Regions from separate parts of the Homo sapiens genome. Here region 1 is linked to region 2. The links come from fine-mapping of genetic effects on gene expression. A gene starts in region 2. The other region holds a variant in brackets. All regions are shown on one strand. Distances are from middle to middle.

Region 1 (12,901 bases), 66 kb after region 2:
GGCACGTGCCAGGCTGTGGGCAGACGCTCTCTACAGCTTGTGAACACCACCCATTTGCTACTACAGCATTTTTACAAATGATGAAAACTCAGTCTGAGAGTCACACTTCAGAACTGAGAGTTATTAAAACTGAAATTTCCCATTTTGGAGAAAGCTCTGTTGTTATGTGAGGAGAAGCCACATCCTGAGGAGACAGTAGAGTCAGTGGGGCAGCAGCCGCGCTCCCGGCCTTCTCGGCCTTCTCCCTGCCCTGGGCTGGTGCCTCTGGCTGAGACCCCATTGCCGGTCACAGCTTGACCGGCCTCCCGCGGGCCTGATGCAGATTGAGGCTCAGGAGGTGCTGGGAAGGCTCCAGTGGACACACGGGCTGCTGACTCACTGTGGGGATGCACAGGATGGACACAAAATGGATGTCAGGGGTGGGGGTCGGGCGTCATCTGCATCTGGGGAGGCCCCCGAGTTCCCACTTGAGCAGTGTGGTGGCGGTGAGTGCCGTGTGACTTTGCTGTCTGCCATCTGGACCCGTCGGGGAACGCAGACTCTGTCCAGTTTGTGTTGCACTTGCTGAGGAAACCCCACCCACTTCCCCTCCCTCCACACAGTGAGCCGAACCTGCTCGTCCGTGCCTGCAACCAGTTGGGCCAGTTTCTGCAGCACCGCGAGACCAACCTGCGCTACCTGGCCCTGGAGAGCATGTGCACGCTGGCCAGCTCTGAGTTCTCCCATGAGGCTGTCAAGACGCACATCGAGACGGTCATCAACGCCCTGAAGGCGAGTGCCCTGTCCTTGGGTTCTGCTCACTCCCTGAGCAGGTGCCGTGGGTCTTCCTGTGAAGGCTGGGGGTACGCAGTGCCTCCTGACTCCCCGCAGAGATGGAGGTGGTGCTGGTGCTGCTGGCCTCCGCCTGTCACCTACTCTTGGGAGGTCACACCACTGTTGAGGGCCATGCTGCCTGGAGATGGCCGGGTTGGCCCTGCTGTCCTGGTTAGGCTGAGCAGAGGAGTCTCTGGCAGCCCTTTCCCTGCTGGGGGCAGCCCCCGTGTGCCATCCTGCGCGTGCATAGTGCTGACAAGTAGAAATGGTTCTTCTTGGTAGAAAGATGAAATTTTTTTCCCTTATCTCCAAGAAAATCCCCCTTTTACAAAGGAAACTCACTTTGTTCGGGGATTAAAATTTCAGAGTTGGGGCCGGGCGCGGTGGCTGACGCCTGTAATCCCAGCACTTTGGGAGGCCGAGGCGGGTGGATCACAAGGTCAGGAGATCGAGACCATCCCGGCTAACACGGTGAAACCCCGTCTTTACTAAAAATGCAAAAAAAAATTAGCCGGGCGTGGTGGCGGCCGGTGCCTGTAGTCCCAGCTACTCAGGAGGCTCAGGCAGAAGAATGGCTTGAACCCAAGAGGCGGAGCTTGCAGTGAGCCGAGATCGCGCCACTGCACTCCAGCGTGGGCGACAGAGCGAGACTCCGTCTCAAAAAAAAAAAAAAATTTCAGAGTTGGAAGAGCCCAGTTGAGGTTGGCCATTGCCAGCCTTTGCGAGTCTCCAGAGCGACCCCGAGGGTTCGTTCCACATAGGGGACCCTGCGGTGTGTCCACCAAGTCCCTAGTCACCGGTGCACATGCGTTAGGGAGTGGGAGGCGGGGAGCTGCATGTCCCCCATCTGGCTCAGCCTCAGGCTGTGGCAGGGCTGCTCCCAGTCCCCCGCACGTCTGCGTGCAGCTCACAGATATTCCGGGTGGTGTGCAAGGGGCTCGTGGTGGGCATTTGGTATTCTGGATTCTTCTTGGTCCTGGTTTTGGTGTTTGTTTTAGTCAATCCCTATTGTCAGAAGGGCTGGACACTCATTTGCACACGGCCAGTGCTAGCGCTGGTGGTGCCCACTCTCCTGCCTTTGTTGGGAGCAGAGCTCGGGCTTTCTCGTGCTGCAGAGCCTCCTGGGGGCCCATCAGCACGGGCTCTGGGGTGGGGCGTGAGGACCTGCCTTGGGGCAGCTCCGTGTCCGAGGCAGTGGGGTCTTTGGCTGCATGGAAGGGAGTCCTTGATGGCCTGCACCAGGCAGTGCGCTCAGTCCTAGCGAAGCTGGCCCTTGTGGAGGGCAAGGGAGGCATGGACGAGCGGGCAGAATCCAGGCAGTGCGCTGGGTCCTAGCGAAGCTGGCCTGTGCGGGAGGGCCGGGCCAGCAGGCGGAACTCTATTCCGGGCTGTCCAGACACACGTGGCCCGAGTGCAGGTCGGCTCCCTGGACCTGGATGTGCATGTGAGGGAAACTCAGAGTGGGTGTTGAGATGCGGGTGCCGAGCCTGTCCCCAGCCTGTCCCCAAGCTTGTGCCTTGCTCCTGCGACCTCTTACTCTGTGCCTTGTTCCCCAGACTGAGCGGGACGTGAGCGTGCGGCAGCGGGCCGTGGACCTCCTCTACGCCATGTGCGACCGCAGCAACGCCCCACAGATCGTGGCCGAGATGCTGAGCTATCTGGAGACAGCTGACTACTCCATCCGAGAAGAGATTGTGAGTTCTGGTGGCCTCTGAGTCCTCTCCTGCCACAGGCGTGAATCTCAGCGGCAGGATTTCCTTCGTGCTCTGCGATTCCGTCCAGCAGGACTTGATTGAGAACCCATGAGATGCTGAATACAAGGCTCCTCTGCCTCTGTGTTTTCATCCACATTTTCAAGCTGGGTGTGGTGGCACCTGTGGTCCCCGCTACTCCTGAGGTGGAGGCGGGAGGATCACCTGAGGCCAGGAGGTTGAGGCTGCAGTGAGTCGAGATCATGTCACTGCACTCTAGCCTGGGCAACACAGCGAGACCCTGTCTTAAAAAAAAATCAGCATTTTTGGTAGAGTCGTTTGGTCTTGAAAATAACTATTGGCCGGGTGTGGTGGCTCACGCCTGTACACCTTGGGAGGCCAAGGCGGGCGGATCACCTGAGGTCAGGAGTTCAAGACCAGCCTGACAAACATGGGGAAACCCTGACCCCGTCTCTACTGAAAATACAAAATTAGCCGGGCGTAGTGGCGCATGCCTGTAATGCCAGCTACTCCGGAGGCTGAGGCAGGAGAATCGCTTGAACCCGGGAGGCGGAGGCGGAGGTTGTGGTGAGCCGAGATTGCGCCATTGCACTCCAGCCTGAGCAACAAGAGCGAAACTCTGTCTCAAAAAAAAAAAAACTAAAATGCCCGTCCTGCGCGGCTTCTGTGGCCTGCCTGTCCTTGCAGTGGTGGCACTGTAGCCCCAGGTCTGAGTGAGGCTCCAGCCGTCTGCGCTGGGGCTGCACAAATCCAGACTCCTGTGGGCAAAATTCTTTTAATTGTGTTGCATTTTGAGCCCTTGAATTAATCCTTTGTGGCTTGGCTTTTTTGGGTGTCCCTCTTGATCTCTGGGAAGGACGGGATCTAGGCCATAGCTTAATGTCCCGTGTTGTTTTTATTCACAAAGTAGGTGTGCACACTTGCCAGATAGCTGAAGCTCATCAAACCTGTACGTGTGAAAGACTGAGCATGAACCAAAACCTGAGGGAAGAAACCCTTGTGGAGGCCACATGGTCAGCAGAGAAGAGGGCCTGAGGCCTCCACCACACTCACAGGCCTCTCAGGCTCACCGTGTCTGTGGATGGTGGGGTTTAAGGGGGAGGCCCGGTGTCCTCGCGTGGGGTTCGCCACTGTGACCAGCCAGGACCACAGCCTCTTGTTGAGGCTGAGACAGCGCCTCCGTTGTATAGAAAGCGCTTTGTTATTTGTTTTTTTTGGGCGAAGTGCGGCTCAAGGCCTCCTTGGGAGCTTTGCCGAGAGCCAGTGTTGGAGCTAGTGGCAGGTGACAGGGTTGCTCTGGGCAGGTGTTGTGTGGTCATGCCCAGGTGAGAGACTCGGGTTTTCAGGGGTCTTTTAGTGAACGGAGGAGCCCAGGTGCTGGGGCTTCAATGCTGAGGGGTGAAATTACCATGGACTGAGCTTCAGTGAGGCACTGCAGACCTGCAGAGAGCAGGGGCCAGGAGGCGGCTCTCACGCTGGACTGTCCACCCTCCAGGACAGTGGGCCTGGGAAGTTGAGGGGGACAGGGACGGGGTGGGCTGACTCCCGGCAGGAGGCCCCAAGGGCAGGCACCGTGGTGTAGGGCAGGGCTGTCTGTAGAGGGGCCAGGCAGGTGCTCGTTGACTGTAGCCAGTGGTCCCTCTCTGGCCTGGCTGGGGCAGTGTGGCCTGGTGTCAGCACTTGTGGTGGGGTGGGGCTGGCTCTGGGGACGGCCGTCACGGGAGCCTCGTTCCTGATTGTTGTTCTGGGTGTTTTGAACAGAGACAGAAGCAGTGTGCTTCTGAGTGCAGTTGTGCAGATTTTGAGGTCCTGGGCATTCGTCAGCCCGGTGTCTGCTCTCGCCCCTCTGCGTGATGAGCGGCAATCCTCAGCCAGCTCCTGCTGTGAGGAGTAAGACAGGTGCTGTGTCTTGGCCTGCATGATGCTCCCCCCAGCCCGTCCTTTCAGCCGGACATGATGCTCCCCTCACCCCATCCTTTCAGCTGGGCATGGTGCTCCCCCACCCCATCCTTTCAGCTGGGCATGGTGCTCCCCCCACCCCATCCTTTCAGCCGGGCAGGGTGCTCCCCCCACCCCGTCCTTTCATCTGGGCATGGTGCTCCCCTCACCCCATCCTTTCAGCTGGGCATGGTGCTCCCCCCACCCCATCCTTTCAGCTGGGCATGGTGCTCCCCCCACCCCATCCTTTCAGCTGGGCATGGTGCTCCCCCCACCCCATCCTTTCAGTCGGGTATGGTGCTCCCCCCACCCCATCCTTTCAGTCGGGTATGGTGCTCCCCTCCGTCCTTTTAGCCGGGCATGGTGCTCCCCTCCATCCTTTCAGCCGGGCACGATGCTCCCCCCACCCCGTCCTTTCAGCCGGGTATGGTGCTCCCCTCCGTCCTTTCAGCCGGGTATGGTGCTCCCCTCTGTCCTTTCAGCCGGGTATGGTGCTCCCCTCCATCCTTTCAGCCGGGCATGGTGTTTCCCTCTGTCCTTTCAGTCGAGCATGGCAGGGCGTGTTCTCTGGCTGTGCTAGGTGCTAAGTGTCCAAACTGGACATGGCCCACTCCCTGCCTACTCGGCACCTTGCCATCCATGGAGGGGGACGGATTGAGAGCAGGACCGTGGGTTGCTGTGCTGTGGGTGGGATGGCTGGAGGAAGTGCCTCATGTTCTGGGGGCCTCAGGAGGCATTACACTCCTGGGGGGCTGTGTGGACTTCTGCAGAAGGTGATAGTGGCCTGGTCTGGAGAGGATGATGGTGCAGAGGCTACTGGGAGGGCAGAGCATCCGTTCGTGGAGGGGTGGGAGGTACCTTAGCACAGGCTGGGGAGCAGGGCACGCGAGGCAGGGGTGGAAGCAGACATGGGGACCCTGCCAGTGAGGCCTGAGGGCCCCTGGTGCACAGCCGTGAGCTGCGGGTAGGGCTCAGAGGCAGTACATTTTGGAATGATGCCCTGGAAGTGTCACGGAGTCAGGTTGGGGTTTGGGGGTCCAGGCTCCAGGCAGGGACTTGGGGTGGGGGGGCACAGTCACCAGCACCTGAGAGGCCAGTGGCAGGGTGTGGAGAGGGGGCGGCAGGGTGTGGGGAGGGGCGGCAGGGTATTAGGGGTGCCCTCGGGAGGTGCGCGGTCTTGATGCCTGCTGGCGTTGGTGTTGGCAGCTGGCGCTGTTCGAAGGGGGCTTGGTTCCAGGCGAGGTGACTTTGGGGAGATGAGTTTGGTGTTGTACAGCCTGGCAGAGCTCCATGTGGGTGGCTGCCACGTGGGTGTGGGCTGGGCAGGTGCCTCCGGGGGGCACCCGTGAGAGTGAGCCAGAGAGGGGAAGAAGGGGAACCCCCAGGTGAGGCTCGCAGGAAAGACTGGCCAGAGCCGGAAGAAACCAGCAGAGAAGTGGCCGCCGGGAGCCCAGGGTGGCGCAGTCACTGGCCGCCGGGAGCCCAGGGTGGCGCAGTCAGAGGTCAGAGGAGTGCTGCCACCGGGAGCCTAGGGTGATGAGGTCAGAGGAGTGCTGCCGCCAGGTGCTGGGGCTTTGGGAGAGAAGGGCCCAGGTGGGAGGTGGCCTGGCTGTGGCCGTGGCCTTCTGTGCACTGGTCTCCGCCTCTTCCTGGCTTTCTTTGCTTAAGTCAGGGCATCTTAAACTTTCTGGGCTCGTGGGCTTTTTTGAGAATCGAGTTCAAGCTTCCTCCATGTCCCAAACTTTTGTAGACACATTGAGGTGCTTCTGAAACTCTCACTTTGACTTTGGACGACAGTTTGGTCTTGGGATTGCCATGGCCTGCAGGTGCCGGCCCTCAGCAGCCTGTCCCCCACAGGTGCTGAAGGTCGCCATCCTGGCTGAGAAGTACGCGGTGGACTACACCTGGTATGTGGATACCATCTTGAACTTGATCCGAATTGCTGGTGATTACGTGAGTGAAGAGGTGTGGTACCGAGTCATTCAGATCGTCATCAACCGGGACGACGTGCAGGGCTACGCGGCCAAGACTGTGTTCGAGGTATGGCC[C/G]GCAGGATGGCAGGAAGGATGGGGTGGAGGGCAGTTGCAGAAGGTGAGCAGTGAGTGGTTCCAGCCTGCCTGCGTGGAGGTGCCGAGGGCCGTTGCTGACCCCTCTTGCCCCTCAGCTCTTCCCTGAGGCTCTAGCTCCTCCACTGTTGGTGCCCCTTGCTGAGTCCCAGTTTCTTCTCACCCTAACTCTCAAACTTCTGGCTCTCTGGGGGCCACCTGAGAAAGCCGGCCTCTGTGTGTGTGAGAGCATGCTGGGGCATGCCGTGGTGGGGCCTGCCCTGTCCGTCGGAGAGGGTTAGGCCACCGGCAAGGGGTGTGCCATGAGGACGCTGGCAGAACCTCCCCAGCCAGAGCCTGTTGTGGATGCTGCAGCTCCCTCCAGGGCAGGTCAGCGTGTGGCAGCCTTGGGTTCCTTGCTGCTGACACAGGTACTGAGGGTGCTGAGGAAGGCAGGGATGGGCACTTGGACTGGGGTCTCCAGGAAGCTGAGGGGCTGGTGCTGGTGTAGGGTGCACCGCGCCAGGACGTGCCCGCCTCGCCTTAACTCTGGCACCTGGCTGCCACCCCGGCTCATTGTTTGTGCTTCGCAGGCTCTTCAGGCTCCCGCGTGCCACGAGAACCTGGTCAAAGTGGGCGGCTACATCCTGGGGGAGTTTGGAAACTTGATAGCTGGAGACCCGAGATCCAGGTGAGAGGCCCTTTGCGAGTCGGGGCTGTGTGCGCTCCGGCGGGCCTCTCGGTGGTCGGTGGCAAGAGGCGAGGCACCAGCTGGCCCTGCCGTGAGGCCTCGCAGAGCCGCTTCTGCTCCCCATCGGCGTCTTTTTGTTTTCCTTCAGTTGATAGAAAAAGCAGGGATTCTAGTAGAAAATGGAGACGTGGGGTTGATGGCTGACTTAGTGAAAGGGGCGTCTTTGCGGTGGGATCTGGAGCTGGAAGAGGGTCCCGACCAGCGGCCTCTGGTGCAGGCCAGGGGGTCTCGCCGCCGTCCCCCCCCCGCGGGGGCGTGCTGCAGCCTGCGAGGGGACGACGGTGTCCCTGTGTTGTGCCTCCCCGTCCCCAGCCCGCTGATCCAGTTCCACCTGCTGCACTCCAAGTTCCACCTGTGCAGCGTCCCCACCCGCGCGCTGCTCCTGTCCACCTACATCAAGTTCGTGAACCTCTTCCCGGAGGTGAAGCCCACCATCCAGGACGTGCTGCGCAGCGACAGCCAGCTCAGGAACGCAGACGTGGAGCTGCAGCAGCGTGCTGTGGAGTACCTGCGGCTCAGCACCGTGGCCAGCACCGACATTCTGGTAGGAGGCCCCCGCCCTTCGGGCTGGCTTGGCTGAGGGTTGGAGGCCAGGAGCTCTGACCAGTCCCACCCTGTGTTCTTTCCAAGGCGACCGTGCTGGAGGAGATGCCCCCATTCCCGGAGCGGGAGTCCTCCATCTTGGCAAAGCTCAAGAAGAAGAAGGGCCCCAGCACGGTGACAGACCTGGAGGACACCAAGCGGGACAGGAGTGTGGACGTGAACGGGGGTCCTGAGCCTGCCCCAGCCAGTACCAGCGCCGTGGTGGGTCCCTCACCTACTGTGCACCCAGACCTGTCAGGGCCTCACCCCCAAGACTTGGGACCAGCAGAGCATTTGCCTGTCAGGGAGGAGCATGTACTGAGAACCCAGGCTCTGGCTGTGGCTCTGGACACCCCGCTGTCCTGTCCTGGGGGCCACTGTCCCTGCTGGACACGCTGCTGTCCTGTCCTGGGGGCCACTGTCCCTGCTGGACGCCACGCTGTCCTGTCCCGGGGGCCACTGTCCCTGCTGGACGCCCCGCTGTCTGTCCCGGGGGCCACTGTCCCTGCTGGACGCCCCCCTGGCCTGTCCCGGGGGCCACTGTCCCTGCTGGACGCCCCGTTGTCCTGTCCCGGGGGCCACTGTCCCTGCTGCACACCCTGCTGGCCTGTCCCGGGGGCCACTGTCCCTGCTGGATGCCCCCCTGGCCTGTCCCGGGGGCCACTGTCCCTGCTGGACGCCCCGTTGTCCTGTCCCGGGGGCCACTGTCCCTGCTGGACGCCCCCCTGGCCTGTCCCGGGGGCCACTGTCCCTGCTGCACACCCTGCTGGCCTGTCCCGGGGGCCACTGTCCCTGCTGGACGCCCCCCTGGCCTGTCCCGGGGGCCACTGTCCCTGCTGCACACCCTGCTGGCCTGTCCCGGGGGCCACTGTCCCTGCTGGACGCCCCCCTGGCCTGTCCTGGGGGCCACTGTCCCTGCTGCACACCCCGCTGGCTTGTCCCGGGGGCCACTGTCCCTGCTGGACGCCCCTCTGGCCTGTCCCGGGGGCCACTGTCCCTGCTGCACACCCCGCTGTCCTCTCCCGGGGGCCACTGTGCCTGCTGGGCAAGGCACTTCCTTCAGACCGTCGTCTTGTCCAGCTCAGCTCACACATCCTCTGTGGTGCCTTGTTTTAGGGGAAGTGGCCGTCCCCTCTCCTACAGGACTGCCTCACCCAGGCAGCTGTCCTCACATGCTTTGTTGATTTAGAGAGGACCTGTCCTGCCCTGCTCTTCGAGGTTTTATGTAGTGAGTTGGGTTAGGTCTGGTTTTCCTTGTATGTGTGATGCGATGAGAATAATCCTGTAACAGAATGTGTCCTGTGGTATTTGTCAGGTGAGAAGTGTCGTTTTGAGAGTTGCGTTTTTGCTTGGCTCTGCTTGCCAGCTGTTCCCCTCTGCACTGTCAGGGAGGGCTCCTGTCGGGGTCAGGCGGGCTTTCTGTTTGTCCAGTTAGAGGACCTGTCTCTCCAGGACGCAGGTCCAGTGGTGGCAACCAGTGCTGCTACCCAGTATCGGCAGGGCTTTGTGGGGTGAGCTCCTGTGGTGGTGCCTGCCCTGGCAGTGTGCTGGTTGGGAGGGTGCTCATGTCGGAGTCCTGGCACTCCTTGGCGGGGACCTGCTTATGTGCCCCGGCTGACCATGTGTCCTGCCCCTCTGGCCGACAGTGCAGGGCCTGCCATGGGGCTGGTATCCAGGCTGAGCCTGACATCTCAATGAGCAGTCTTCCCTCCCCCTCTTCCTCCCTCTCCCCTCCCTCCACCTAGTGTCCTCTGTGCAGCCCCTGTCCCCCCGTGCCCTCTCTCTGTGTTGTTTGTGGCACGCTGCTGTGCCCGCCATCTGGAGGCTTGAATTGCCTGTGAGCTCATCCTGGAGTGAATGAAATGAATGAAAGATGTGACTCTTTCTCCCAAGGTGGGCGTCTTCCCTTCACGCCTGAGCACCTTCATGCTTATGTTTCTCATGTGCTCTGTAGAGCTGGTGACCTGCTTTTGACCCTGTCTCCTCCCGTGGGACGTCACTAGCCAGGCGCCTAGTGCAGCAGGCCTCTGTCACTCCTCTAATCCATCTCTCCCTCTCCTTTGGACATCTTGACATAGGTTTCTGGAGGCAGAAACTTGCTTGTGGAGATTTGTCTGTGAGCTGCCGGAGCAGGGGCCTTCCCGTGGGTGCTGGGCCGGCAGCGGCTCCGCCCTGCAGAGAGGAGGACGCGGCCCCAGTTGGGTGAGGAGGCGAGGGCAGGATGACGTGATCCAGGGGAGGCTGGTGTGCAGGGATTCCTGGAGGCCGGCTTTCAGCAAGGGCACTGTGAAGTCTTCCACGGAAACCTGGGATTGCCTGTTGGAAGCTGGGAAGGCACCAGGTGCTCTCGCTCCCCTCCAGCTGCTTTGACGTTAAGAGGAACTCGCTGAGGGAGCATGGAAAGGGGCTGTAGGATTGTCTTCAGTCTCTCTTTGGTTCTTATTTGATGTTTCTTTTTAATGTGGGTCCTGAGAAGTGAGGTGTGCCCATACCCCAGGCCTTTGATCACACCCAGGTTTGTCCGGCTAGGCTCAGGGTGGACTTTGGAGGGCCTGGCCTTGACTGTGTGGCTTAGGGATCAGATGGAAGCTTCTGGACCCTGGGAGTGAGAGCAGTGTGCTGCCCTCTGAAAAGGAGGATGAGGGTCCAGTGAGGTTCAGCATTTCTGTAAGGTGCCTTCTTGGAGGGAGTTCCCCCTTCAGGGCTCATTCAGTGGATTTTCTGAGTGTGGCTTCACTCCTGATGGTCAGTGGTGCCTGGCGGGTGGGTTCCTTAGGGAGGTGTCTGTGGCCGAGGCACGCAGCTCTGTTCTGAGCTGAGAGCTGTGGTGTGTGGGCACCTCCGTCCTGACTGAGAGCTGTGGTGTGTGGGCGCCTCCGTCCTGACCGAGAGCTGTGGTGTGTGGGCCCCTCTGTTCTGACCGAGAGCTATGGTGTGTGGGTGTCATTGCTATCCTGTGCTTTCCAATCTGTTCCCATTGCTCACGGGAGCCCCAGTGAGAGGCCCCTCCCTATGGGGAGACACTCCTGGCGAAGTTTTCTTGCTCAGGGTCTTCTGTATGGGCCGTGAAGGGGCCTCAGGGTGGCATCAGCACATGTGCCTTTCCCACGAGAGACAGTGGCTTTATCTTGGTGTCACATTGGCCAAAATGTCTTTTATTTAACATCATAGATGAGGCCAGGACATTTTACTTCTTCCGAGCATCCTCTTTCTGCACACAGCTCCTTGGGGGAGGCTGTGGTGTGCGTGTCCCCGGGTGTGCTGGGGAGCACAGGGGTGTGGGGATCAGAGGCTGCCTGGCTTCACATGCAGGAGCCTGGGGCCCTTGTAGGCAAAACCTTCACCCCTCAAGTTGTCCTGCTATTGGAGGGAGGAGGTGAACTGGTGTGGCCCAGGAGCCAGGCCTGCTCCCTGAGGAGGGTCTCCCAGGCCTGAGAGGATAAGGAAGATGAAGAACCTGAAGTGGGTGTTAGGACCCTACTGTCCTGGGGCCTTGCATCTGGCCTCGCTGTTACAATCTGTGGTAACGTTTCAGGTACAAATGCCTTTACTAGGGCAAAGGGCTTTCCTACTTTAGAAAGCAGTTAAAAGCCATAGATGGCTGGGCATGGTGGCTCACACCTGTAATCCCAGCGCTTTGGGAGGCTGAGGTGGGCGGATCACTTGAGGTCAGGAGTTTGAGACCAGCCTGGCCAACATGGTGAAACCCCGTCTCTTCTAAAAATACAAAAATTAGCCAGGTGTGGTGGTGTGTGCCTGTAATCCCAGCTGCTCGGGAAGCTGAGGCAGGAGAATTGCTTGAACCCAGAAGGCGGAGGTTGCAGTGAGCTGAGATTGCACCACTGCACTCCAGCCTGGGTAACAGAGTGAGACTCGGTCTCAAAAAAATAAAATAAAATAAAATAAAAGCCATAGATGTATTTGAATCAGTGCAGGAACCAGGGTAACATCTGTGATGAGATGCAGAGGAGAAACTGTCTCCATTTGGGCTGCAGGTGCATGGCCATGGCCAAGGCCGATGGCTTCCCACGCAGCTCACAGCTTTGTCAGGCTGTGGAGGCCACAGTGTTGGCGGGCGCTGTCCCCGGCGTAGGGAGCAAAGCGCCGCCTTCAGATGGTCTCATCGAGACACGCCTTGGATATTTTTGGGACTCTTCTCTGCCAGCTCCTCTGTGACCTCCCACCCTTGGAGCACATGAGACCCGTGTCGTCTTCTCTTGCAGAGGTGCTCCGTCACAAGAGCAGAGCCTGGGAGCCTGCCCCGTTTCTGACTGCCCCCCAATCCCCATTCTGACTCTCACCCGCCCCCATTCTGACCCCCCGCCCCCATTCTGACCTGCACCTTTTTTGCATAACACACTTTGTGATGCCTCATTTATCTTTGAGTAAAATTCATATATCACAAACCCACACATGTAGTTTTTTTGAAAGTACAGTGTGACACCTTAACTTTGCATTAATGTAAAATGGCATTCAGGTGGAGTCTCAGATAATTACAAACTAATTTTTTACCTTCTTAGATGTCCAGTGGAACATTCTAAAGTTACTCAAGACGAATCTTCAAGTTAGGGTGTCTTGTGTCTCTGTTTTTTGCCTGTGAAATGCCAATATCCTTGTGATAGTCAGAGCCCTCCACATCTCCAGAACGCTCTTAGCTGGGTGGGGGGTTTCTCCACCAAGAGCCCCTGGTGTATAGTGTCAAAGTGTGAGTGTTGCCAGGCTGTAGTTCAGTGGTACGATCTTGGCTCACTGCAATCTCCGCCTCCTGGTTTCAGTTCTCCTGCCTCCACCTCCTGAGTAGCTGGGATTACAGGCGTGTGCCACCACACCCAGCTAATTTTTGTATTTTTAGTAGAGACGGGGTTTCACCATGTTGGCCAGGATGGTCTCAATCTTCTGACCTTGGGATCTGCCCCCCTCGGCCTCCCAAAGTGCTGGGATTACAGGTGTGAGCCACCGTGCCAGGCTGGGTGTCCTTTTTATAGGGAGCATCTGAGTCCCTCTGGTGCACAGGCTGCTGTGGGGCAGGACCCGTGGAGCCCAGAGCAGGTCTGAGCTCC
Region 2 (11,504 bases):
CCGTCCCCCAACCAGGAAAGTCAGTTGACCATCAGGTGATGGTCAGGGAGCTGTTTGTTTGTTGTTGTTGTTGTTTGAGTCTCGCTCTGTTGCCCAGGCTGGAGTGCAGTGGCGCAATCTTGGCTCACTGCAAGCTCCGCCTCCCGGGTTCACGCCATTCTCCTGCCTCAGCCTCCGGAGTAGCTGGGACTATAGGCTCCCGCCAGCACGCCCAGCTAATTTTTTGTATTTTTAGTAGAGACTGGGTTTCACCATGTTGGCCAGGGTGGTCTTGAACTCCTGACCTCGTGATCCACCTGCCTTGGCCTCCCAAAGTGCTGGGATTACAGGTGTGAGCCACTGTGCCTGGCTTTTTTTTTTTTTTTTTTTGGCAGAGTCTTGCTCTGTTGCCCAGGTTGGAGTGCAATGGTGGGATCTTGGCTCACTGCAACCTCCAGTTCCCAGGTTCAGGCGATTCTTCTACCTTAGCTTCCCTAGTAGCTGGGACTACAGGTGCCCACCACCATGCCCAGCTAATTTTTTATATTTTTAGTAAAGACAGGGTTTCACTATGTTGGCCAGGCTGGTCTTGAACTCCCTGCCTTAAGTGATCCACCCGCCTCTGCCTCCTATGGGAGAGGATCACAGGCATGAGCCACTGCGCCTGGCCTGGAATTTTCTTGACCATACTTTTTTTTTTTTTTGAGACAGAGTCTCGCTCTGTCACCAGGCTGGAGTTCAGTGACGTGATCTTTGCTCACTGCAACCTCTGCCTCCTGGGTTCAAGTGACTCTCCTGCCTCAGCCTCCCGAGTAGCTGGGACTACAGGCACGTGCCACCATGCCCAGTTAATTTTTGTATTTTTAGTAGAGACGGGGTTTCACCATGTTGGCCAGGATGGTCTTGATCTCTTGACCTCATGATCCCCCGATCCCCCCGCCTCGGCCTCCCAATGTGCTGGGATTACAGGTGTGAGCCACCGTGCCTGGCCTTGACCACACATCTTATGCAGGAGCTTAGAGGGCTGCCCCTCTGTTGGCCCAAGGGTGCCCTGAGCCGGTAACCCGTACTAGGGGCTGCTTGGGACAGACCTTGATGATGTCATCACCCTGCCACCTAGTGGGGTGTCTGGCCTCCTTGGCCTTAGTCACCCCGAGCTGCCCTTCTCCTTTGAGAGCAGGGGGCCTGCTGATGTGGCTGCACCCCCACAGCCTCAGAGGACGGCCCTGAGAGCCTGTGAAGGTGCTGGCCTTGTGCAAGTTACACATCTCCAAGCCTTTGGCAGGAAGGGTCTCCTTAGGAGAAGCTGGGCAGGTTCAGTCCCTGAGTCCTCTGAGCCCCTTTTTCTGCATTATGTCCAGGGATTTCTGTCATTGTAACCATGTTTTAGGGGCTGCCCTGCATGTAGCTTCCAGGAATTTGGCCCAGCAGCAGCCGGACGGACCCTGGGCTGCCAGGCTGGCTCAGTTGATCCAGACACCGTGGGTGCTGCAAAGGACCCAGCTGTTGTCCGGGGCCTGTGTCTCAAAAGCCATCCTACAAGTGTTCTGTGGGGTTTTGTTGACAGAAACTCAGCTTCCCGCTGTTCACAGGTGCCCAGTCATCCCCCTCTGTGCGATTGTGGGTGTGGATGTGTTGGGGCCTGACTCAGGATCAAGGGCTGAGCTGGGCGGGGACTCTTGGGAAGTGGGGCTTGGGGTCCCAGGTTATCGAATTTACCCCATGCCAGTTCTCTGGGCCCCGCACAGCACTGCAGCTCTCCCGCCAGACGTCTGGGGAGGCTGCACCTCCCACCCTGGTGGCTGTTTTGCTGCTGTCTGGGCCCAGCTGTGAATGGCTTTGTATTCCTCCGGCTTTGCAGTGGTGAGAAAGATGTGTGGTCATGGCAGCTCCCACCCGCCCCGTGATGAGCACTCAGGAGCCTGAGCTCATCTTCTCCTCCTTCAGGTGGGCTGGCTATACCTGACGCACCCACCCACCGCAGAGTTCCAGAATGCACCCCTCATGCCTCCCACCCTTCCATGGCAGGGGACAGTCAGTTCCCACAGCCTTCCCTGAGCATGTCACTCCTGGGGACTGCAGGTGCTCAGATGATCACGGGGGGGCCACAGGGTCTGAGCATGCCACCTCATTGTCCCTGAACTCTCATGAGTGCACAGGGACCAACTGTACATGGAACATGCTGCCAGACCCTCTTCTGGAAGGGTCATTGTCTGCAACTTACGCCAGAGATGATGAGAAGGAAACTGGGTCATTTGTAAAACAGACATGTTCAGGTCTGGGTAGGACCCAGGGCATGGCCAGCTAACGCTGCAGGGGCTATATGTTGGGGAACCCTGCTGCAGTGAGACAGCACCTCCACACCGCAGCTTGGGGCCCCAGCCTGTTTTCCCTTCATGATGCCCACGTCGGGCTTGTATCTGTGGACCCTGGCTTCCCCATGGCTGTGGATGAAGGAAAGCGACTCGTCCCCACCTCTGCCCTTGGGAATAGTACTGTGACCTTGCGTGGCTAAAGTATGACAAACGTTCAAATAATTTAAGAAATGGCTGGGCGCGGTGGCTCACGCCTGTAATCCCAGCACTTTGGGAGGCCGAGGAGGGCGGATCATGAGGTCAGGAGATTGAGACCATCCTGGCCAACATGGTGAAACTCCACCTCTGCTAAAAATACAAAAAATTAGCCGGGCGTGATGGTGCGTGCCTGTAATCCCAGCTACTGAGAAGGCTGAGGCAGGAGAATCGCTTGAATCCGGGAGGTGGAGGTTGCAGTGAGCCGAGATCATGCCATTGCACTCCAGCCTGGGCGACAGAGCAAGACTCCATCTCAAGGAAGAAAAAAAAAAAAAAAGAAAGATACTGAGGCTAGGCACAGTGGCTTGTAATCTCAGCACTTTGGGAAGCCAAGGCAGGAGGACTGCTTGAGCCCAGGAGTTCAAGACCAGCCTGGGCAACATAGTGAGACTCCATCTCCACAAAAATCAGAAACTTAGCCAGGTGTGGTGGCGTGCACCTGCAGTCTAAGCACTTTGGGAGCCAAGGCAGGAGGATGGTTTGAGCCCAGAAGGTCGAGGCTGTAGTGATTCATGATTGTACCACTGCACTCCAGCCTGGGAGTCAAAGGGAGAAACCCTGTCTCTAAAATTAAACATAAATAAATAAATAAATAGGCCAGGCATAGTGGCTTGCATCTGTAATCCCAGCACTTTGGGAGACACAGGCAGGCGGAATGCTGGGATTACAGGAGTTCAAGACCGGCCTGGGCACCGTGGTGAAATGCCATCACTACAAAAAATAAAATAAAGAAAAAGAAACTGTTTCCTAGGACTGCGCACTCCCGAAGCTGGCCTCTCCCGAGCCGAGGAGTGGCAGTGGTCAGAGAGGCCCACATGGACTCAGACCCAAGGCTGGGACTGGAGTGAATCATCTGGAGGGCTTGCGTGTCTGCAAGGGCAACGACGCTGGAAGGAGGTGGGAAGTCTTTTGCATGGCTGCATGTCGGGCCTTCTGGGACCCCTAAACACTCTTGTGTGGACGGGAGGATGTCTGTGGGAATCCCAGAGCTGGCACTGAGGAGGAGTCTTCCGAGTGGGCGGAGGGGGATGCCTGCCAGGCCCAAGCCCTCCTGTGGGCAGCCCCTGCAGCACCCCCATTGCCCTGCTCTGTGAGTGGCTGCTGGTGGGGGGGCACAGTGGTCTGCTTGTCTCGGTCTTCTGCACTGCCACTGCCAATGGGAGCTTGGATTAGGCATGCCAGCCTCCTGACGCCCAGAGCCCATGCTCTGCCCACGTGTGTTAGTGGACGGTCCTCGTGACTGCTGGGACTGTCCTGGAGAGCAGCCCAGGACCCCTCACATGGCACAAGATGCTCTTGTGTCCAGAATGGCCTTTATTTGTTGTCAGGGACAGGGGAGGGAAGCTTCTTGGTGGAAGGGAGAGGCTGAAGAATGAACAGCCCCGGGACCACTTTCTCTGCCAGGAGGTGGCACTGGGAGAGGATAGGGACTCCGGAGGGGTGTACCGTCCTCCAGGAAGCCCTCTGCTGGGTCGGCTCCGTGCCTCTGTCTTGGGAAGTGATGGACTTGGTTGCCTTATGCTGACTGGGGTCTGTCACAGATCTTGGTTTTCCCCAGGAGTTCTGGAGGCCCAGAGCCTGGGTGCGGCACCCGGTTCATTGGGGAGGGGCATGGGTCCTGTGCCCTCCTCCTGGCCGGGCTCCACCAGGGCTAAGCTCTCATCTGGGGCTGCGGAAGTGAGCCAGGGTGGGGACAAAGCCCTGGCTGGTGGGTCTGGGCCAGTTCCAGGTACAGGGTCCAGATCCCCCCACTGCAGCAGGAGGGAGCTTCCTGTTCAAAGCCATCTGGCTCTGGGAAGGACAGTGAGGCAGGGCCATCTGCTTCCCCACTCCCTGGGGTCTCTTCCTGGCCGGGACCTGGAGCTGTGCAGCCTGGCCCAGCAGGTCCTCCCTTGCGATGTGTCCACAGGGGTGGGCCTAGGCCTCCAGCTTGCAGTGGTGCAGAGGGCTGGGGAGCAGAGGGGGCCCTGGCAACAGTGGCCAAAAGTCCTGGCGCCGCCGAGGGACTAGATTCCGCAGGGGCTGCCGCCCCCGGCCGCTGTCACTGGGGTGGGGTGGGTGGTTGTTTCTCTGCAGGCCCAGGTGATGTGGAGGGGGCACCTGGGCTGCCACACAGACCCTGGGCTGGGTCGGGCACGGGGCCTGCCTCGCCCCCAGCTCAGGGACCGCAAGAGATGTGGCCCTGGCGGCTCAGGGCGGCAGGAGGGGCGGGCCAGCCCCACCGTCTCAGGATACCGTGCTAGGGGAGGGTTTCCTCGCCAAAGGCCGTCCAGCGGCTGTGACCCCTTCGCCTGGAGCCCCAGCTTCCTCCCGGCGCCGCCCTCCCGCCCCGGCCCCCGCGGAACAAACAAGGCCCTGGCCTCGGAGCTGCCCCGCCGCCCAGCGCTCACAGGTCGTTTATTCCAAGTAAGAAAACGGAGACTGCTCGGGGCAAGCTAGCGGGGCCGAGGCCCAGGACGAGGCCGTACGCGTGTGCCTGCGTGGCCGCCTCTTTTGCAGTGACCACCAACAACGACAGAGGCGGCCCGCTGCACACGCGGGTTCCCGCCCGGACCCACGCCCTTCCCGTGGGGGACGCGGGCGGCATCGCCAGCTTGGCGCGGCCCCGGGACGCGAACGCGTGGCTTCAGCGGCTCCGTCCATGGTGTCCGCCTGCAGGGGGCGCCCCCGCGCCTGCCTCGACCGGCTCGCCCCCGTGCCGCGGACGCGCGCGCGCTGCCTCACGCGACACCCGCCCCGGCCGCCGTCCGTCGTCGCTCGCGTGCGTGCGCGTGCGTGCTGGTGCGGGCGCCGTACGTGCGCGCGCGCGGCGGCCCAGAAAGCGGCGCTGGGACCCTGAGGCGGCCGTGGTTAGGCGGCTCCCCGGCGGCTCCTCCGCGGCGGTGACGGCGACCGCACTCCCCGCTTCCCGCTCCCCGCGCTCCTCCGCCCGGGTCCGCCAGCCGAGGCCGCTCCCGAGCGTCGGAAGATGCCGGCCGTGTCCAAGGGGGACGGGATGCGGGGCCTGGCGGTCTTCATCTCGGATATCCGCAACTGTGAGTGGCGGGGGCGGCGTGGGGCCGGGGCCGGGGCCGCCGGCGGAGACGGGGTCTGGGAGCGGAGGCCCGGGGCGGGGCCTCGAGGCGGGGGTGCAGGCTGGGATGCGGGCGGGGCCCGGGGCCTGAGGGTGCGGGCGGCGCTCGGGGTCTTGGGGTACCGGGTCTGGGGGTGGGGGCCAGGGTGCGGGGTGGGGGTCCAGGGTCTGGGGGTGCGGGCGGCGCTCAGAGTCTTGGGGTATCGGGTATGGGGGTGCGGGTCAGGATGCAGAGCGGGGCCCTGGGTCTGGGGGTGCGGGGTGGGGTGTCCAGGGTCTAGGGGTGCGGGGTCTAGGGGTTTAGGGCACGGCCCTTCATCCACATCTCCACTCCCGTTTGCTGGTCCGTGCGGGGGGCTGCGGCACCACCAAGGGGGTTCCGGGCCAAGACGCCCCTCCCCAGCATGATGTCACCTTGGTCTTTCTAGTACTGGAGCGTTTAACCCAGCGTTTTCCAAAACGGCGTGGATTTTAGCTTTGGGAGCAGAAATCTGGAAATCAGTGTCTTCCCAGGAAACAGCTTTGTGACCTGGGTTCTGGAGGCTTATTAACCCCTGATTAGATCTCACCTACGACGATTAAAATGACTCATTCCCGGAGGGAATCTGGACACGAGCAGCAGTCGGGGTGTGGGATGGCCTCGCTGCCTGCTGCTCCAATCACAGACCTCGTTCTCAGCCCCGTGCCTGTCCCCTCGGGGTGGGAAAAATCCACACCAAACCGTTAAACAAGCCAGGAAGGCTGGGCCTGTTAGAAGGATGTGCAGGGTGGCTGGGTGGGTGCACCGGTCCACCAATTAATTTGACTTTGGTGTGCAGAACCTCCTCTTGGCTTTCAGAGGCCATCTCCTTATTTAATTTGAGGGAGAAACAAAGCCAGTTTCCTGTCTGCTGCGTTGATTTTTTTCCTTGTTATCCAGCAAATAGTTGACTTCATGATTTTTGTTTTTCTTTTTTTTGAGACAGGGTCTTGCTCTGGCTCTCAGGCTGGAGCGCAGTAGTTCCATCACGGCGCACTCAACCTCCCACCTCAAGTGATCCTACCACCTCAGCCTCCGGAGTCACTGGGACTACAAGCGTGCACCACCACCATGCCTGGCTGATTTTCGTGTTTTTTGTAGAGATGGGGGGGTCTCGCCATGTTGCCTAGGCTGGTCTCGAAATCCTGAGCTCAAGTGATCCACCTGTCTTGGCCTCCCAAAGTCCTGGGGTTACTGGCGTGAGCCACGGCACCCTCATAATTTTTAATGTGTATTTTGAGGGACTGTTGTGATCTTCCCTTTGAATTCTCATCTCCTTAGACGGGATGGAGGATCAGGAGGATAGTGGTTCTCCCACACTCTGTGGAAGGGTAGAGGACCATCTAACCCTTCCTGTACTCTGTTAAAAAAAAAAAAAAAAAGCATAGAGCTGGGTGCGGTGGCTCAAACCTATAGTCCCAGCATTTTGGGAGGCTGAGGCAGGTGGATCTTTTGAGCCCAGAAGTTTGAGACCAGCCTGGGCAATGTGGTAACACCCTGTCTCTACAAAAAAATACGAAAATTAGCTGGGCGTATTGGTGTACACATCTATAGTCCCAGCTACTTGGGAGGCTGAGAGAGGAGGATCACTTGACCCCAGGAGGTTAAGGCTGCAGTGAGCTGAGATCGCGCCATACTCCAGCCTGGGTGACAGAGTGAGACCTTTCTCACAAAAAAAAAAAAAAAAAAAAAAAAGGCTTAGAAACACCCTCAGATCAGCACTTTTACGAGTAGCATTTTTTCTCTTTGTTTGTTACATAATGAGACCAACATGCATTTTGTAAAACTAAGTGTGTGTATTATTTCTTAAGGGGACCTCTGGGACAAAGACTGAGTACCCTTAAATGCGCTATGATGTCTGTCCTTCCATTTTTGAAGAAAATTGCGTTAGGCAGGACAATGAGATTGAAAGCCATTTCCTCAGACAGCAAGTCACCCACTTGTCAGATATATTGTCTGTGCCAGGGCCTGCGTTTGACAGGATGGCGCCTACCACAGTGAGTGCGGTATAGCCGTCCTCCCTTATTTGTGGTTTCACCTTCTGAGGTTTCAGTTACCTCTGGTGATCTGAAAATAGGTGAGCATAGTACAATAAGATATTTAAAGAGACCACATTCATATAACTTTTATTACAGTATATCATTACAGTTCTTTTTTATTATTGGCTTCTGTTAATCTCTTACTGTGCCTAATCTGTAAGTTAGACTTTTTCATAGGTATGTGTGGGAAAAAAGCAGCTTGTATAGGATTTAGTATCATCTGAAGTTTCAGGCACCCACTGAGTGCCTTGGAACGTATACCTGTGGATATGGGGAAACTGCTGTACTCTATAAAATACTTGACTATATAGACCAGACTTTCTCCAACTCAGCAGAGCTGACATTTGGGGCTGGATCACACTTTATTGTGGGGAACTGTTCTGTGCCTTTTAGGATGTTTATAGCAGCACCAGTTGCCTTAGTTGTGATAAGGAACAATGTCTCCAGGCATTGACAAATGTGCCCTTAGGGCAAAGTTGTCCGCCGTCGAGAACCACTAGTGTATCCCATTGAATAACACAGCCCCTCCCCTGAAGGAGCTCGTAGAAGAAGGGGTGCTTAGTCCTAGCTGGGGGAGCCAGGTCTCTTTAATACGGCCCCTTTCTCGGAATCCTCTTTCCCTCATTGCTGTTGGATGGCCTCTCATCAGCTGCAGCGCCCACCATTCTCCTCCTGGGCAGTGTCTTCAGCTTGTGGTGCTGCTTTTCACCTGAGTGGCCCCATCTCCCCCACTGCCCTCTAGGGTGGCCTCTACAAGGTGCGCACCCTATCTTGCTCATCACATTTTTCCTGCTGTTCTCCTCATGGCGAGCGTCTGGCATGCGAGGTGCATGCCAGAGAAGACCTCACAAGGAAGGTGATTCTTGGGCAATTCAGGCAGAAGACCAAGAAGGTATTAGAGGAACAGCAAATAATTAATGTATATACGTATTGAGTTAATGAATGTTGGCTGGTGCCTGGAGACGGGATTGGAGAGCCAGCCAGGGTTTGAGCTGATCTGAACTTGACCTCCATGTCACAGGCAGAGGGGTCCCCGCTTCCCCTTTCCCTGGCCAGCTCTGATTTTGTGTGCTGTTTTCCTGTCATGAGAGTGAATGATAGGAGTAGTCGGGCCCTGTGGAAAGAGGACTCTGAGCCAACAGCCAAGGCTCTTGACCCTGACTCTGCCTCTTAGCAGCTGCATGAGTGGAGGCCACTGGCCATGGAGCCTCAGTTTCCACAGCGGACAGTTGAAGGGCTGGATTTTCAGCTGAAATATCATTAAAGCTGCGTGAGTGGAGGCCACTAGCCACGGAGCCTCAGTTTCCTCAGCTGACGCTTGAAGGGGCGGATTTTGAGCTGAAATATCGTTAAAGCCTGTTTCAGCTCCAAATTTGCGTCTTTCTGACCAGTTTCTTAAGTTTTCCTCCTTTAGCCTGGGCAATATAGTGAGACCCCTGTCTTTTCAAAAGAGAAAAAAGAATTAGCCAGGCGTGGTGGCACGCACCTGTGGTCCCAGTTACTCAGTGGGCTGAGGTGAGAGCATTGTCTGAGCCCTGGAGGTTGAGGCTGCCATGAACTCGGATTGCGCCACTGCACTCCAGCCTGGGCAGCCTGAGGAGCAGATTGAGACCCTGCCTCAAAAAAAAAGTTTTTCCCCTCCAAGACCTGGTGCCAGCCGGGTGCGGTGGCTCACGCTTGTAATCCCAGCACTTTGGGAGGCTGAGGTGGGCGGATCACCTGAGGTCAGGAGTTCAAGACCAGCCTAGCCAACATAGGGAAACACTGTTTCCACAAAAATACAAACATTAGCTGGGCGTGGTGGCATGCACCTGTAGTCCCAGCTACTCCGGGGGCTGAGGCGGAAGAATCGCTTGAACCCAGGAGGCGGAGCTTGCAGTGAGCTGAGATTGTGCCATTGCACTCCAGCCTGGGTGACAGAGCGAGACTCTGTCTCAAAAAAAAAAAAAAAAAAAAAAAGCCCTGTGCCAAGTATCTGAGGTAGCGGACAGGGAGCATGTGGACACTAGGATGCTCTGTTTTCACTTCAAGTAACCCACTCCCAGCAGACTGGCTTGGGGCATTACTCCTCTTAGCATAGGCAGCAATGAATATGCTCCAGGATTTGAAAAGGTGCCTCGTGTCAAGCTCTGCCCCTCAAAGTTGTAGCTTTTGTGGCTCAGGTAGTGAACTAACTTAATGTCTCCTAAAATTAACTTCATCCTTTCTGATTGACGTCAACCCAGCGGCCACTGCATTTGGTCAGCATGCATTCAGTGTGTGAGAGTTAATAAACTGTTTCTTTTTTTTTAAATTGGCATTAAAAAAATTCTAGTCCTTTTATTTAGTCCCAGTTTTAGAATTTTTTTTTTTTTGAGACGGAGTTGCGCTCTGTCGCCCAGGCTGGAGTGCAGTGGCGCGATCTCGGCTCACTGCAAGCTCCGCCTCCCGGGTTCACACCATTCTGCTGCCTCAGCCTCCCGAGTAGCTGGGACTACAGGTGCACGCCACCACGCCCGGCTAATTTTTTGTATTTTTAGTAGAGACGGGGTTTCACCGTGTTAGCCAGGATGGTCTCGGTCTCCTGACCTCGTGATCCACCGGCCTCGGCCTCCCAAAGTGCTGGGATTACAGGCGTGAGCCACTGTGCCTGGTGCCCTACCTTTCTTAATGTGGACATCTTGCATAACTACAGGACATATTCAACACCAGGAAACAGACACTGGTACACACCACCAGGCATATTCAGATTTCGTTAGATCGACATGCACGTGTGTGTGTGTGGTTCTATGCAGTTTAGCACCTGTAGCTTTGTGTAACCGGTTCCCTACCTCAGTCAAGATACAGAACTATACCATCATCACAAAGCTACCCCTTATAGCCATACTCCTGAAACTAATCTGTTCTCCATCTCTGTAATTTTGTGGGCTCAAGGATGTCATATAAAGGGAATCACATCATATGTGATCTTTTGAGATTGCTTTTTTCCCCCTCAGTACAGTCCCATCGAGGTCCATTCAGGCTGGTGCATTGATTGACATTGTATTTGAGCAAAAGATACCGAGAAAACAAAATAACTGCTGAAATTGGGGAAACAAGACCATAATTATTTGCTATTTATTCAGTTATTTTGGAACTTTCGTTTGTTTTTACACAAATGACATATCTGCAGAGGAGAGTTGTATCTAACTTAGTGAATGCATGTCTTTATGCATTGCTGTTGACATGCCAACACTAGAATATTGTTGGAGAGACACAGCACTGCTGAAAATGTTGTCAGGCTCTGAGAATTGACTGCAAAACAATCAGGACTGCAAGGAAAGGGAAGAAGTGATAAGTCCTTTTGAGACCGGTCAGTTTGCCAGGAAAACAACTTCAGGCAGGAAATGACCATTTTTATTTCTCTACATGTGGTGCTGGTGTGGTGCAGATGCTTGGAGGCGTTTTCTTTAACCCCCCCAGGTCCTCACATGAAGGGGAAACAGATGGAGAGATGTTATTAGCAAGATGGCAAAAATGAATTTCCATGGTCTTGAAGAAAGTGATACAGTTTTGCTGCAGGTTTCACGATAAATTAGAAAAATTATCAGTGCTCTGCTCATTGTGGTTGGCATAAAACTTGGTCCCTTCCATTTCTTGTTTTTTTTTTTTTTTTTTTGAGGCAGAGTCTCCCTCTGTCACCCAGGCTGGAGTGCAGCGGTGTGATCTCGGCTCACTGCAACCTCTGCCTCCTGGGTCCAAGTGATTCTTGTGCCTCAGCCTCCTGAGTAGCTGGGGCTCCGCCACCACCACGCCCGGCTAATTTTTTGTATTTTTTAGTAGAGACAGGGTTTCACTGTATT

What was found. PIP is the estimated chance that this variant, and not a neighbour inherited with it, causes the effect.
Region 1: its variant is fine-mapped to the expression of AP2A2 in whole blood (TOPMed, PIP above 0.99).

The regions. Positions count from the first base shown.
Region 1 is chr11:986,183-999,083 of GRCh38, forward strand. AP2A2 (adaptor related protein complex 2 subunit alpha 2) reads left to right here. Exons shown (of 22, transcript NM_012305.4): 9 at 603-771; 10 at 2,370-2,507; 11 at 6,321-6,503; 12 at 7,102-7,199; 13 at 7,572-7,803; 14 at 7,890-8,063. Among named protein-coding and RNA genes, the nearest start is that of MUC6, 44 kb to the right of the region's middle. RefSeq lists an enhancer at 8,102-8,626. The variant C/G (reference allele first, on the strand shown) is at 6,512.
Region 2 is chr11:920,502-932,005 of GRCh38, forward strand. It overlaps AP2A2 (adaptor related protein complex 2 subunit alpha 2), which reads left to right and starts at 5,369. Exons shown (of 22, transcript NM_012305.4): 1 at 5,369-5,587. The coding sequence starts at 5,521. RefSeq lists an enhancer at 1-181 and a silencer at 5,181-5,720.